Linked DNA regions of Homo sapiens: all the other regions are linked to region 3. Evidence: fine-mapped expression QTL. A gene starts in region 3. Each other region holds a variant in brackets. All regions are shown on one strand. Distances are from middle to middle. Region 1 has its middle 11 kb from the start of ARHGEF28. Region 2 has its middle 24 kb from the start of ANKRA2. Region 3 holds the start of ANKRA2 (ankyrin repeat family A member 2).

Evidence for each region. PIP is the estimated chance that this variant, and not a neighbour inherited with it, causes the effect.
Region 1: its variant is fine-mapped to the expression of ANKRA2 in monocytes after LPS (Quach 2016, PIP 0.95).
Region 2: its variant is fine-mapped to the expression of ANKRA2 in stomach (GTEx, PIP above 0.99).

What each region holds. Positions count from the first base shown.
Region 1 is chr5:73,613,451-73,617,691 of GRCh38, forward strand. No RefSeq gene overlaps it. Among named protein-coding and RNA genes, the nearest start is that of ARHGEF28, 11 kb to the right of the region's middle. The variant TG/T (reference allele first, on the strand shown) is at 2,526.
Region 2 is chr5:73,539,392-73,543,632 of GRCh38, forward strand. No RefSeq gene overlaps it. Among named protein-coding and RNA genes, the nearest start is that of ANKRA2, 24 kb to the right of the region's middle. The variant A/G (reference allele first, on the strand shown) is at 2,366.
Region 3 is chr5:73,563,326-73,567,566 of GRCh38, forward strand. ANKRA2 (ankyrin repeat family A member 2) reads right to left here and starts at 2,314. Exons shown (of 9, transcript NM_023039.5): 1 at 1,807-2,314. It overlaps UTP15 (UTP15 small subunit processome component), which reads left to right and starts at 2,418. Exons shown (of 13, transcript NM_032175.4): 1 at 2,418-2,587; 2 at 3,937-4,109. The coding sequence starts at 4,020. RefSeq lists enhancers at 1,574-2,128, 1,708-1,757, 1,778-1,987, 1,998-2,557, 2,129-2,683.

The DNA of each region.
Region 1 (4,241 bases), 50 kb after region 3:
ATAAGAGAATATTTGTTATTTATAAAGCCAAATGCAAAGTCTTACAGAAAAACTGTCAAGGGTAAATGTCATTGTGTGCTTTTTTCTCTCTTGGCTGATTTATCCCCTTGACTGCTTGTTGTGATTCCATTGGCAGCTTCTACTCACCTCCTTTATCTGTATCTCCTTGCACTTCACAAGACACAACTAATTCTGAAGACCTTAAATTTTAGAAGATAAAGACAAGGAAGTTTATATCTACAACCTTTATGTTGATGACAGCTGTGAAGGGTTTTCATCTGTCACATGTCTGTCTCCATCCAGAGCCCCCAGGAACCCCACTTCACCTGTTATAATAGGTTTCCCACCAATAAGTCCAGGTAGGGCAGAAAAAAGAGAATGTAAAGGTAATAAAGAGGACTTTCCTGTTAGAAAAGTTGAAGTTTGAATGGGAGCTTATCCTTTCCATATTAAGCAAGACTATTATGTTCCTGGCTCCTCAGCTATAGAAAAAATTAACATAATTATATTGAGGCAGAAGGTTGAAAGGGAAAATAGGAAAAGATAAAATAATATGAGTCTGTATTTTCTGGAGATAAAGTCTTAATAGGGCCTTTGGAAGATAGATGTCCCATCTTGCCCCAGACCCCAGGGATAAATTACTAAGCACTTCCTGTAAATTGAGGGATAGAAGTATCACTGAAGCCAACATTGTTTATTCAACAGTTTCTATGTTTCTTCCACAAGATCTTTCACCAGGCATCAGGGAATCAAAGATGACTGAAACGTGCTTTTGACCTTACTCAACCCTCTGCTGAGGGAGATGGAGGCAGAAACAGACTATCAGAATGCCACATGGTAAGTTTGTGATCAAGATATGCACAAAGTAGGAGGTAAGTATAAATAAAGATGCCTAACCCAGCTTGGCATGGGTGGGGGTGTTGGTGAAAGTTTTCTGGGAGGAGAGCCTGAGCTAAGGCTTAGGAGATCTGTAGAAAAACAGTGGGAACTGCAATACTGTTTTCAGAATTTATGCGGCTGAGCAGACCAAAGAGATGGGAGAGCTGGGGTTGGTGGTGAAACCAGGTGGATCAGGGTAGCAGTGGTTTGCACAGTGATTTGGGTTGGTTTGGCCACAAAAAATATGACTCCTGAGATCTTCTGACACTCACTGCATGAGGCCATAGAGGATATTGGTTAAGAATATGGGCTCGCCTGGGTGCGGTGGCTCATGCCTATAATCCCAGCACTTTGGGAGGCCGAGGTAGGAGGATCAATTGAGGTCAGGAGTTTGAGACCAGCCTGGGCAACGTGGTAAAACCCTATCTCTACAAAAGGTACAAAAATTAGCCGGGTGTGGTGGTACGTGCCTGTAGTCCCAGCTACTCAGTAGGCTGAGGTGGGAGGATCACGTGAGCCTGGGACGTGGTGGTTGCAGTGAGCCGAGATGGGGGGCCACCACTCTCCAGCCTGGGTGATAGAGCCAGAACATGTCTCAAATAAATAAATAAATAAAAAGAATATGGGCTGGGTTTGAATCTAGGCTTTAGCACCTGTTAGTTTCTTCCTTGACAAAAAGGAGACACCTCTAGTATCTAACAGTGTTGTTATGAGGATTAAAGGAATTATGTTAGAGCTTAGAAGTGTGCCTGGAATATGTTAAGCATAAGTACTGGTTGCCATTATTGTGATTCTGAGATTGTGATGCATAGTACAATTCCTCGCAGGACTGGGTGACTAAGACCAGTGGCCAATGAGAAAGTGGCTCCCTAGAAGCCATTGCCAAGAGTAGCTCTTCAGAAGGCAATTCAAGTTATGCTGTTATTTCCCAAGGGCAGAGTCAGGGAGGAGTCTAACAGAATTACCTGGGGAGCATTGTCTGGGATTCACCCTGGATCGGCTGAATCAATATCTCCAGGGGTGGGGCCCAGGCATGAGTAATGGGAAAAGGCTTCTGGTGATATGTCTTCCCAGGTCTCTGGCCTGACAATGTCACTGGTGCTGCCTAGCCTTGGGATATCAACTGGACAGGGGAATTCATTTAACATAGATGTGTGCTGAGAACAATATGCTGCTCTGTAGTTTTTTTAAATACACAGAAGAAATTGTCTTCCTTTCCACCCTGCAATTTAATGCTTCAATGTGCAAATGTCAAGAGATAGGGAGAGACAAAAGGGAAAATGATAGGAGCAACAGAAGAGTTTGCCACCAAAGGGGATAGTAGGGTGGAATGACCTGGGCTTAGAAATTTGACTTCGGAAAAGCAAGAGATGGTCTGAGGAAGAATTTGCAGCAGGCTTTGTGCATCTTGCATCACAACCACCCATGGAAGACACTGAGTAACATGGTTAGCTGCAAATGGGCTCCCAGGAGGAAGGGACGTGAGATGGGACTGGCCAGGCCTGAACGCATCTCCACATCTGGTACTGGGAGGGAATGTCCCATGTGGGTGTTTGGCAGGAAACGCTCTAAAACAAGCACTCTTGCCACAGCATAACTAAAGGTATCTTCATTAATATAAAACCTATTTATTAAACTATGAAACA[TG/T]GAAAAAAAAAAAGCAACAATTGTTAGGTGTTTTGAATCTCAGAATTTAAAACGCCCCACAAGGAGAATTCTACAATGTCACTTGCCATCCTTGGGGGTGGTGTAGTTCCTATAATTTCCCACCTGGCTCTGGGGTAATACGATAGGCCAGTGACATTCATTCCACCAGCATGGGCTGGCCTGCATGCTGCTGTTTCTTAGAGCTCTCCTGAGGCCTGCCAGGTGACCTTCTCTTTGCTGAAATGACCCTTGCCAGGGCATTCAGTAGTGTGTTAAGACACTGGGGGTTCAGGTAAAGATACGTGAGACTTTTTTTTCTATTCCATAACGTTGTAAATAATTTTTAAGTTGCCTTTAATTTTTAAGAATTATAGAAGGAACACATTCACATTGTAAAAAACAAACAAACAAACAAACCTGCCCTTAATGACCTTGCAATCCAGCAGGGAAGATGTAATAATAACAAAAGGCCATTTCCTAAGTTTCTGCTGAGTAGTAGGCTCCAGTCTTCACCACAACCTCGGAAATGCCTCTAAGAGTCATACGATGTTCTTCATTTTAAGGGTGAGGAAGGTATGTTGTAGAGAGTTAAGGGAACTTGCCAAAGGAACATAGTCAAGCTAGCAAGTAGAAAGTTAGGTCTGTCTGATGGCAAAGTACTTGCTGCCTTTTCTACTCAATTACCTTGCCTTTTAACCAGCAAATGATAAGTAACTAAAGCATGATGTGATAACTGTTATTATAATAGTATCCCCAAAGTAATATGGGCATATGACTGAGAGGGGAGAAAGGCTGATTCTGGCACCATACACAGACTAGGAATCTACCCTGTATTGGTTCAAAAGTGGTGTATAGTTGAGAGTTAATACATCTCTCCAGAAAATTGAAAAAGGTCGTAGAAGGTTGAAAATGAGTGAATGGAGCAGGGCCAATCAATCAGCTACTTTTAGAAGAAAGTAGCTATTAGAGTTTTTCTTGTTTGTTTTTCAAGCTTGTTTCTTCTATGCTTTTTAAACTCTAAGTTTATTCATTTTTCTACTTTTTTTTTTTTGAGGTGGAGTCTCGCTCTGTTGCCCAGGCTGGAGTGCAGTGGTGCAATCTCGGCTCACTGCAACCTTTGCCTCCCAGGCTCCCAGGTTCAAGCAATTCTCCTGTCTCAGCCTCCCAAGTAGCTGGGATTACAGGTGCTCGCCACCATGCCCAACTAATTTTTTTTTTTTCTGTAGTTTTAGTAGAGACGGGGTTTCACCGTGTTGTCCAGGCTGGTCTTGAACTCCTGACCTCAAGTGATCTGCCCGCCTCGGCCTCCTAAAGTGCTGGGATTACAGGCGTGAGCCACCATGCCCGGCCCTTTTCTACCTATTTCTTCATAGATAATAAGTCATTTGCTAACTACCTATCCTCCTCTTTTAAACTTAAAATCTTTTGTCTGCCTTGTTTTCAAAACCTTCATAGTCTAACATAATTATTAGGCAGACATAGTGAACAGCCCTTTTTCTTTACTCCTAGAAATCCTGTATTAATAGGAGCAGCAATGCACTCAGCTTAAACAGCTACATGTTTCCAGCCCCCTGTAATGGATAGGGGTAGCCAATGAGATGTAAGTAGGAGTTGGGTGAGGCTTCCAGGGAAATCCTGTAAAGGAGGCTGACTGGACCGGGAGGTATGCCTCTTTTCCCTTGCTGTTTCCTCCTTTCTACTGTGTGGAGCATAGT
Region 2 (4,241 bases), 24 kb before region 3:
TGTGCACCATCATGCCCAGCTAATTTCTGCATTTTTAGTAGAGGTGGGGTTTCACCATGTTGGCCAGGCTGGTCTCAAACTCCTGGCCTAAAGTGATCCACCTGCTTTGGCCTCCCAAGGTGCCAGGATTACAGGCATGCACCACTGTGCCCAGCTGCCAGAAGGATTATAAACCAGCATGACCCAGGCACCTGGAGATGCAGAAAATCTGACCCCCCAGTCCTGTGGCCTTGAAAAATGTGCTCAGGTAAGGATCACAGAAAATGGTCTTCGGCAGACAGAAAGATTAGTGCTGGATTTTATTATTTTGTAAATGGTTTAGCCTATTTATAACTTATGAAGCAGAAACTAAAAACAGCTTAAGTATATGTTTATTTTAATTGGAGATGGGCATATGTTTATGTATGCCAATAACTTTTTGAAAGTATGTCATTATAATGAAACTATTATAAAGATGTGCATATGGGTGCATGTTGTATATATGTCAGCAGACACATATTGACATTTATGCAAAGTTGGTTATTGGAAGTGACTGGTAGTAGATATGACTGGGCTGTTCTTGTGCATAATCTTTGGTCCCTGGAAACCCTGAAGGACTGAGCGTGACCCAGGCAGTGGGTTTCTTCCCCATCAGCTTGGTTGCTTGGCGTTTATCTGCAACTGTCTTCCAAGTAAAGCTTCCCAGGAACTAGAGTCTGGGAAAACCTTACTGGGACTTTGGGTGCCTTTAAGCCATTGGCTATGACAGAGAGAAGTTGTTACTGGAAGGCTCTTGTGACATAACTGAGGGGTTCCTGCTTAGGAGGGCTCTTTTATTTATTTTTGAAAAAAGTAGAAATGTCACCTTTTTTATGATTCAGATGATCTGAAGGCACATCCTTTGCAGTGGAAAGAGAAGAGACTCCTGTTACCTACAATAGAAGGAATAGCCTAGACTGCACTGAATGCAGTGACTCATTGTGGGTTACAGGACATACTGGAGTAAATGCGCCTTACTGGAGTGAGACTTCAGTGACAGAGGGTTGAGTTGAGACTCGTCATCTTGTCTCATTCCTAGGAGGTGCTCAGTGAATACTTATGAAAAGGAAGGGAGGGAGTGTTGAGGGAGGGAGAGAGGGAGGGAGGAAAGCGGCAGGGTCTGAGCCTTCAGGAAGCAGGTGTCAGGCTCAGCTGGAATAATTTAGCCCTGCCAAAGATAACCTGGAAGGATCTTTTCAGAAAAAGGACAAAGCATTTCCCAAAGTAACTCATTTCTCAGTATTTGGAGGGTTGCAAACTAGGCACAACTTGTGTCCTTGCCTGGCGGTCAGTCTGGGCATGATGGATGAACCAGTGGAATGGGTGGCCCCAGGGCTCTGCTGATGGAGGCTGTGTTGTATGGGGTGTAGGCTCTTCTCAGGGAAGGTTTGTGGAGGATGTTGAGCCAGTGAGGGATGGTGGGAGTGTGTGGTGAATGTCTCTGATGCTGGTCCCTCAGAGAGGAGAGAAGGAGGAGAGGAAGAGGGAAGAAAGGAAAGAGGGAAGGAGGAGAAGAGGGGAGGGGACATCACAGCAAACATGACCAGAACCAGAGGGACTGTCTTCACAAAGGACTCCTGGTGCTCAGGTGGCAAAATGGGACCCAGAGTCTAGGGTAGGGATATTCTCCTTATTTCTTGTAACTGTCAACATTCTTAGCATCAGAAACCAACTCTGGTTAAACCAAAAAGGAACTGACTGAAAAGCACCTGGTTCACAGAAACATGGGGAAATCTTGAGAAGCAGGCAGGAGAAAGGGTCAGGCAGCTGCAGGTCCACAGCCAAAATCTTGCCAGTGAGGACATGGCCGTCACATTTTGTGCAGCATCTGCTGCTCCCGGAAACCAGTTATTGCTGTAGCCACTCTGACTTCATTTCTCATACTGCTTTGGATCAGCAGCCACCAATTCAAAACTCTGGGGCTAGCGTGTCTGACTGGTTAAGCCCAGATCACATCCTTGTACTCTAGCTTCAAGGGAGGTGGGAAGAGGAAGGCTTGGGTGGAAAGACTGGACTCTTTGGCTTTCTTAAAAGGAGGTGGAGAGTCAAAAAGGCCCACGAATGTCCACCATTTTCCTGCTCAGTACCATGTGATTTCCCAAAGGAAACCCACACTGCTTAGCCAATTTGAGACGTTGTTTTGGGAGCACTGGAGTACTGGTAAATTTAAACACACACACACACACACACACACACACACACACACACACACACACACACAGCCTGCTCTGAAAACATTAACATAAAGCTGAAAGATAAATTGGCTGTTGGAATAAACTTCCTGGAACACGTTGTTTCAAGATGAATCAGCCAGCCATCTATTTACTTACCTTTATGCACAAAAGGA[A/G]AAGAGAGAAGGAGGGTGTTCTAAGACGATTGTGCTTAACAAAGAACAGAATGGTAGTTTATACTTCTAAAATTACGAATCTCAGTTTGAATAGAGTTATCCATGACTACCAGTCGGCATTCAAGGTTTTTAGAGATTAGAATCTTATTTTGCAGAAATTATATCAAACTTTGAAAGCCAGATAATCTTGGAAAAGGACTTTTTACAGACAACCTCACAAGGAAACTGTTATGGTTACTAAATATAAAACAGGATCGCATTTTTGTAAATATTTTAGCCTCCAAATTTAATGAAAATTTTAAAAATTAGGGCTAGCATTTCATCTTTCCTGCTGGCATCAGTAGCTCTTTTCTCTATTGTGTGCAGTTACGAGGACTTGCCTTTTCAAGCCACAGAATTCCATTTGCTGGAATTGAGTCCAAAAGCTCAGGCAGGCCTTAAGGAAATCTATGACTTGGTAAACTCATAAGGGACTCTGAGGCTGTACTGGTCTCCTCTTATAAAACGGATGTTCATAACCCCCTGATCCTGAAGTTATTCACAGAAGCTCATCTTTCTTGGGGGAATTTTTAATTCCCTATTCTCATTTATATACTTTGGGTAGGGGGCGGATTCTAATTGACTTAAACGAATTAGCATGTCCCCCCTTGAGCAAACTGATTAGATCAGGGATGGGCATATGATCATGTCAGTGTGTGTGTGTGTGTGTGTGTGTGTGTGTGTGTGTGTGTGAGAGAGAGAGAGAGAGAGAGAGAAACAGAGACAGAGAGGCAGAGACAGAGATAAAGAAAGAAAAAATCCCAGGACTTTGGCAGGAGCCCCCAGAAGAGAGAATCTCTCTCTCTCCCTCTCTGGAAAGCATAGAGTGAGAGTGAGGTCTTGCAGTTGCTGGAGCTGATGGATGAAGCCAACCATGTGGAAAGCAGAAGACAGGGAAATAAAGAAATGAGATCTTTCAGTTGCTAGATCAGGTCTCACCTAACATTGTAATCACTTTTTAATTTTGTGAGCCAATAAATGTCCTTTATTATTTATTTATTTTTGACACAAGGTCTTGCTCTGTTGCCCGCCTGGCAGTGGCAGGAATACAGCTCACTGCAGCCTCAGCTTCCTGGGCTCAAACAATCCTCCCACCTCAGCCTACCAAGTAGCTGGGACTACAGGCACATGCCACCATGCCTGACTAATTTAAAACCATTTTTAGGCCTGGTGCAGTGGCTCATGCCTGTAATCCCAGCACTTTGGGAGGCCAAGGCAGGTGGATCTTCTGAGGTGAGGAGTTCGAGACCAGCCTGACCAATATGGTGAAACCCTGTCTCTACTGAAAATACAAAATTAGCCGGCCATGGTGGCAGGTGCCTGTAATCCCAACTACTGGGGAGGCTGAGCCAGGAGAATCGCTTGAACCTGGGAGGCAGAGGTTGCAGTGAGCCTGAGCCAAGATCATGCCATTGCACTCCAGCCTGGGCAACAAGAGTGAAACTCCGTCTCAAAAAACAAAAACAAAGCACAAACAAAAAAAACATTTTTTTGTGGATGCAGAGGTCTCACTATGTTGCCCAGGCTGGTCTTGAACTGCTGGACTCAAGTGATCTTCTTGCCTTGCCTCCCAAAGTGCTGAGATTACAGGAGTGAGCCACCACACTAGGCTCATTTGTTGTTTAAATGAGTTGAGTTCTATCTCTTGTAATTGAATAATCTCTCATTGATGGACTGAAAAAAACACTTGCAACTAAATAGTCCTTAGTATCTCAGTATGTAAGTATTAAAATATACCTTAGCATAAAAAAGTATTTCTTAGTATATAATTTTCATGGTATACAAAGAATTTTTAAAATTAAGAAAAATAATAATAACCTAATAGAAAGCAAAGAAC
Region 3 (4,241 bases):
CTGTTTCTCCCATTTCCTATATCTGAATATCACCAAATGGATAAAAGATCAGGCTAACAATGAAAATAAACTTTAATCTCTTACCTAAGGTTAGTTCTTTAATATGCTATGTTTATATAGGTGGCCCTTAGTTTGAATTTAAGAAATGATAATTCATGTTGTATCCAAGTTTATTGGCATTGTCATCTATAACACCTGTGATTCCTAGACCATGAAAGGCTTTACAAAGCTTTGGTTTTGATGAACTGAAGGTACATTTATGAATTTTTGTTCCGATTAAGCATTAGCAACTTAATGTAGGTTTTCATGAAAAATAAAGTAGGTAGATTATGGATTGGCTTTCCAAGATGTATAGTTGTCTTAGATACATTATCATTTGGGACAGAAAGGAAATTAATAACATCCAGTTAATTTTTTCATGTTAGGGTTAATTGCCTCTTAGGAATTTTGAGAGGGTGCAGGGTGTTTCAAAATTGGAATTGGAATTAAAAGAAAAATGCATTAGGATCGCAGTGGAGCAAGGGTCGCGAAACCATACATTTACAGATAACCACCTTCTACAATTTTAAAAACATTTTCAAAGATTAGTCTTTATAACAATCCTTTGAGTAGGCAGGTCAGGTAATCATATGTCCACCTAGGAGGGGTAAAAAAGGAAGCTCATGAATTATGAGGGCTTACTCAGCTCTTCTGACTCCATCACTCTGACCATTAAAATGAGGCAGCCCTAAACAAAGCCAAAATCTCCACGAGAGAGTTGAATAAATAACACATAGTATAGTAAGGAAAAAAAAAAAAAGCAGGAAGTAAGAAGGTTAATACATTTGGGCAAAAAGAAGGAAACCAGAAAAGAAAATTAGTTCAGTGATTCAAAGGGAGATGGATGTGCAATGCATTAGTCCATGCGTCTTAAAAGGGACTGGACAATGTGAACTGTGTTTCCTGAGGGAAGAACCATCTCCCCCTTTCTCCTATCCAGCGGTTGGCTAAGTGCAACTCCCCTAAGCTCTCTGAGCACCCTGCATGTATCTGTATTTTAGCATTCACCATCCTTTTGACAATTTCCATTTAAATAACAGCTAAATTGAAAACTCCCCTAGGATGGGGACCACTCTTACTAATTTTTGCACACAGAACAGTACTTGGTCCTACCAGGTGCTCCATAAATGTTTTCTGATCTTAACTTTAACAATTTTTTCCATATTCTTTTCTATTTCTAACATTTGCTGATTAGACCTGGCTTTCCACTCCCAACATCGCTACTAACTAGCTGGCCACTCCTGGACAAATAAATAATACAAGTTTTCTGAAATTCATCTATTATAAAAAGGTGTTGAAATAGGCCTTTCTAATATTCTTTCCAGCTCTAAACAGCTTCCATGTTACAAATCAGGGTTTATAGATGGAATTACAGGTCTTCGAGAGGAGAATAGCAAATGTGCTTAGGCGAAGGGGGTGGGTGGAAAATGAACGCTTATCTTGGCACAGCAGTTTAACGAGAGGAGAAGCAAAGTTGATTGGTAGGCCAAAATTTTGAAGAACAGGAGAGGGAGGCGGGGGTGAGGGGAGTGGGGTAACAGGACTTAGAAGAGGTGGTGGTGAGAAAAAGGGGGTAAGGCAATCGATAGCTAGGTTCACCTCGATCTGTCAGAGCCCAGGGATGAAGGGATAGAGAGTCTACGGAGATAAAGTGGGCAGCTATGCTAGTTCCTGTGGATGCTAATAACAGGAGCCCCTCGTTTCTTCCTGATCCTGGAATTATTCTACAAGGAGAGGAAGGTGCTATGAAAATAAATGATGCCTCACAGGCGACAGGTGTCCCAGCGTCCCGAGACAGGAGCCCGCTGTCTCCCGCTGGAGGGGAGACTCTTGCAGGAAAGAAAGTCCGTTCTGTCGCCACCGGCCAGCTGTGCCCGAAAAGTCCCAGGAAGAAACTCTCGCTCATCCGCGGCGAGCGGATCCCGGGCACAGGGGCTGGAGGCCGACCCGGTGAGAGTGCAAGGTCTCGCGACCACCGACGACAGCAGACAGCGAGTCGGGCCTTCCCATCTGAGGCCAGCTTCAGTACAGGCCTCCAAGCCCGGGCTTGTTTTGGCCGCGACGTCACTTCCGATTTCTTCTTTCGCCTTCTGGCTAAAAAACGTTCCGCAGCAATGCAGCTGAAACTTTCGGGTTTTCTTTTTTTTGTCCCTCTCTCCTTTTTTTTAATATTTTTGTTTTTGCCGCCTTTACGCTCCGAGGCCCATCCTGCCGGAGTACTACACAGACAGGGTCATTTCAGTTGACGGTTCTGGGTCACCAGAGCAGAGGAAGCCCCAATTTCGCCCTCCGGTCACACCTCCTACTCCAGATCGCCCCGCCCACCTGACCCGCCTCTGCGCCGCCGGGCTGCGTGAGTCTCATGAGCGTGCTCTGGTACGTCATCTTCGCGCGACGTTCGGTTCGCTGTGTGTGTCGCCGGCTCCTTGAGGGTCCATGTGATTTTTACGCCAGTGCTGCTGAACTGTGCAGGGTAGGGAGCTGGCACAGTCCGATTAATTGTCCTTGGGTCGAGGTGTCTCGTCGGACCCTTTGGGGCTCAGTGGAGGTAGGTGAAGGCGGCTCCCATTGAGGGAAGCCCACACTCACACCCGGCCTTCCTGTGTTAATCTGGCATGCTCTTCTGGGGCTTCCCAGGCTATATAGGAGAGTGGCCAAATTCTTTAACCGGCTCAAGTTCCCCTCAATTAAGCTTCGACCTAGGTTCTTCTCTGCGATTACACCCTTTCCTGTCCACCGTTGTTAGTTCCCGGAGTAATCAGCAACTCTCCAAGGCAATGGACACATTTCCATCTTTGCCTTTGCTTACGAGGCTCCCTCAGGTGAAGTGAACCTAATGGAGTTTTAAAATATTTGGGAGATAAAATCAGCAGATCTTGTTAACTATTTGGATGTTAGGAGTGAGGAAGAAAAGGACACGTCAAGGCTGAGTCTAGGTTAATATCTGGTGCCAGTCACCAGCCAAAATGGAGTATATTGGAGTAAGCAAAGGCACAGACCATGTCTTTATTTCATTCACCATTATAGCCCCAGTGCCTAGAGCAGTGTCCTGCACATTGGTAGGTACTTTAATGAACAGAAGAGTGTTCCCAAAGACCAGTGAAATACAATCATTGGTCATTGTATTTCATTAAAGCACCTTTTAAATATATGTTACACCTATTTATCGTGGTGTTACTAATGTAAAGTTTTCAGGCTTTTTGGAATAGATGATGAGCAGCACCTCTGGAATCATTTACCTGATAACATTGAATCTCTTTTGCAATTGAGTCGTTCTGGAAAAATGTTTTGGCTTGATTGCATGTTATTTAAAAGTTTTATCCTATTCTGCCACTTTAGTGTTGAATTTAATTTCAGGACTGCTTTATTACAGTTTTCTTTCCTACTGTTTAAACCTTTTAAAGTAAATTTAATTTTAAGCTTCTACATTAGAATATTAGCTTTGTGTTTCTTACTTCTTGGCATTTTTAGGCTTTCAGGAAATCAAATCCGTAACTATAATTGTTATAGATTAAATGTCATCTTAAACTTGGTTTCAGGAAACTTGTATTTGCAGTTTCACCTTAATATTTCCTGTTGCCAAAAAATGGACACTCAAAGCCAGCATGATCCTTTTTGGTTTGGCTACTGTAAGGCTGTGCTAGATTTATTCCTAAGTGTTGTAAAATGGTTGGCTAGGTGTGAGAACCTTTGTGTACAGCTGAATAGATGGTGCGATATGATAGCCTTCACTTTAATTATTCCTGCTTCCTATAGATTGCCTTTTCTGGGTTAGAATTAAATGGCTTATTGGTCTCTAATCTATATACTTCCACACAGACTTTTTAAAGAAAGCAGAGTGAAAATCAACTATGTGTACAAGCTTATAATATGTATATAAAATATTTTATTTTTCAGAATTAAGGCAGAGTCACTGTAATTATTTCTAATACCAATTCCAAAATAGTGACTCTTGGACAATAGTGCAATTATATGGAATTATGGCTGGTTATAAGCCTGTAGCTATTCAGACATATCCTATACTTGGTGAAAAAATCACCCAAGATACACTGTACTGGAACAACTATAAGGTGAGTGTGGGACGTAATGAGGGAGAAGGGATTTGTGTTTATGCCAATTTCTCTAGCATATGTTATACTCTGGATGCTCTAACAGAGAATTATTAACTGAAAACCATCTATCAGCAGCTTATAGTTTGGGCA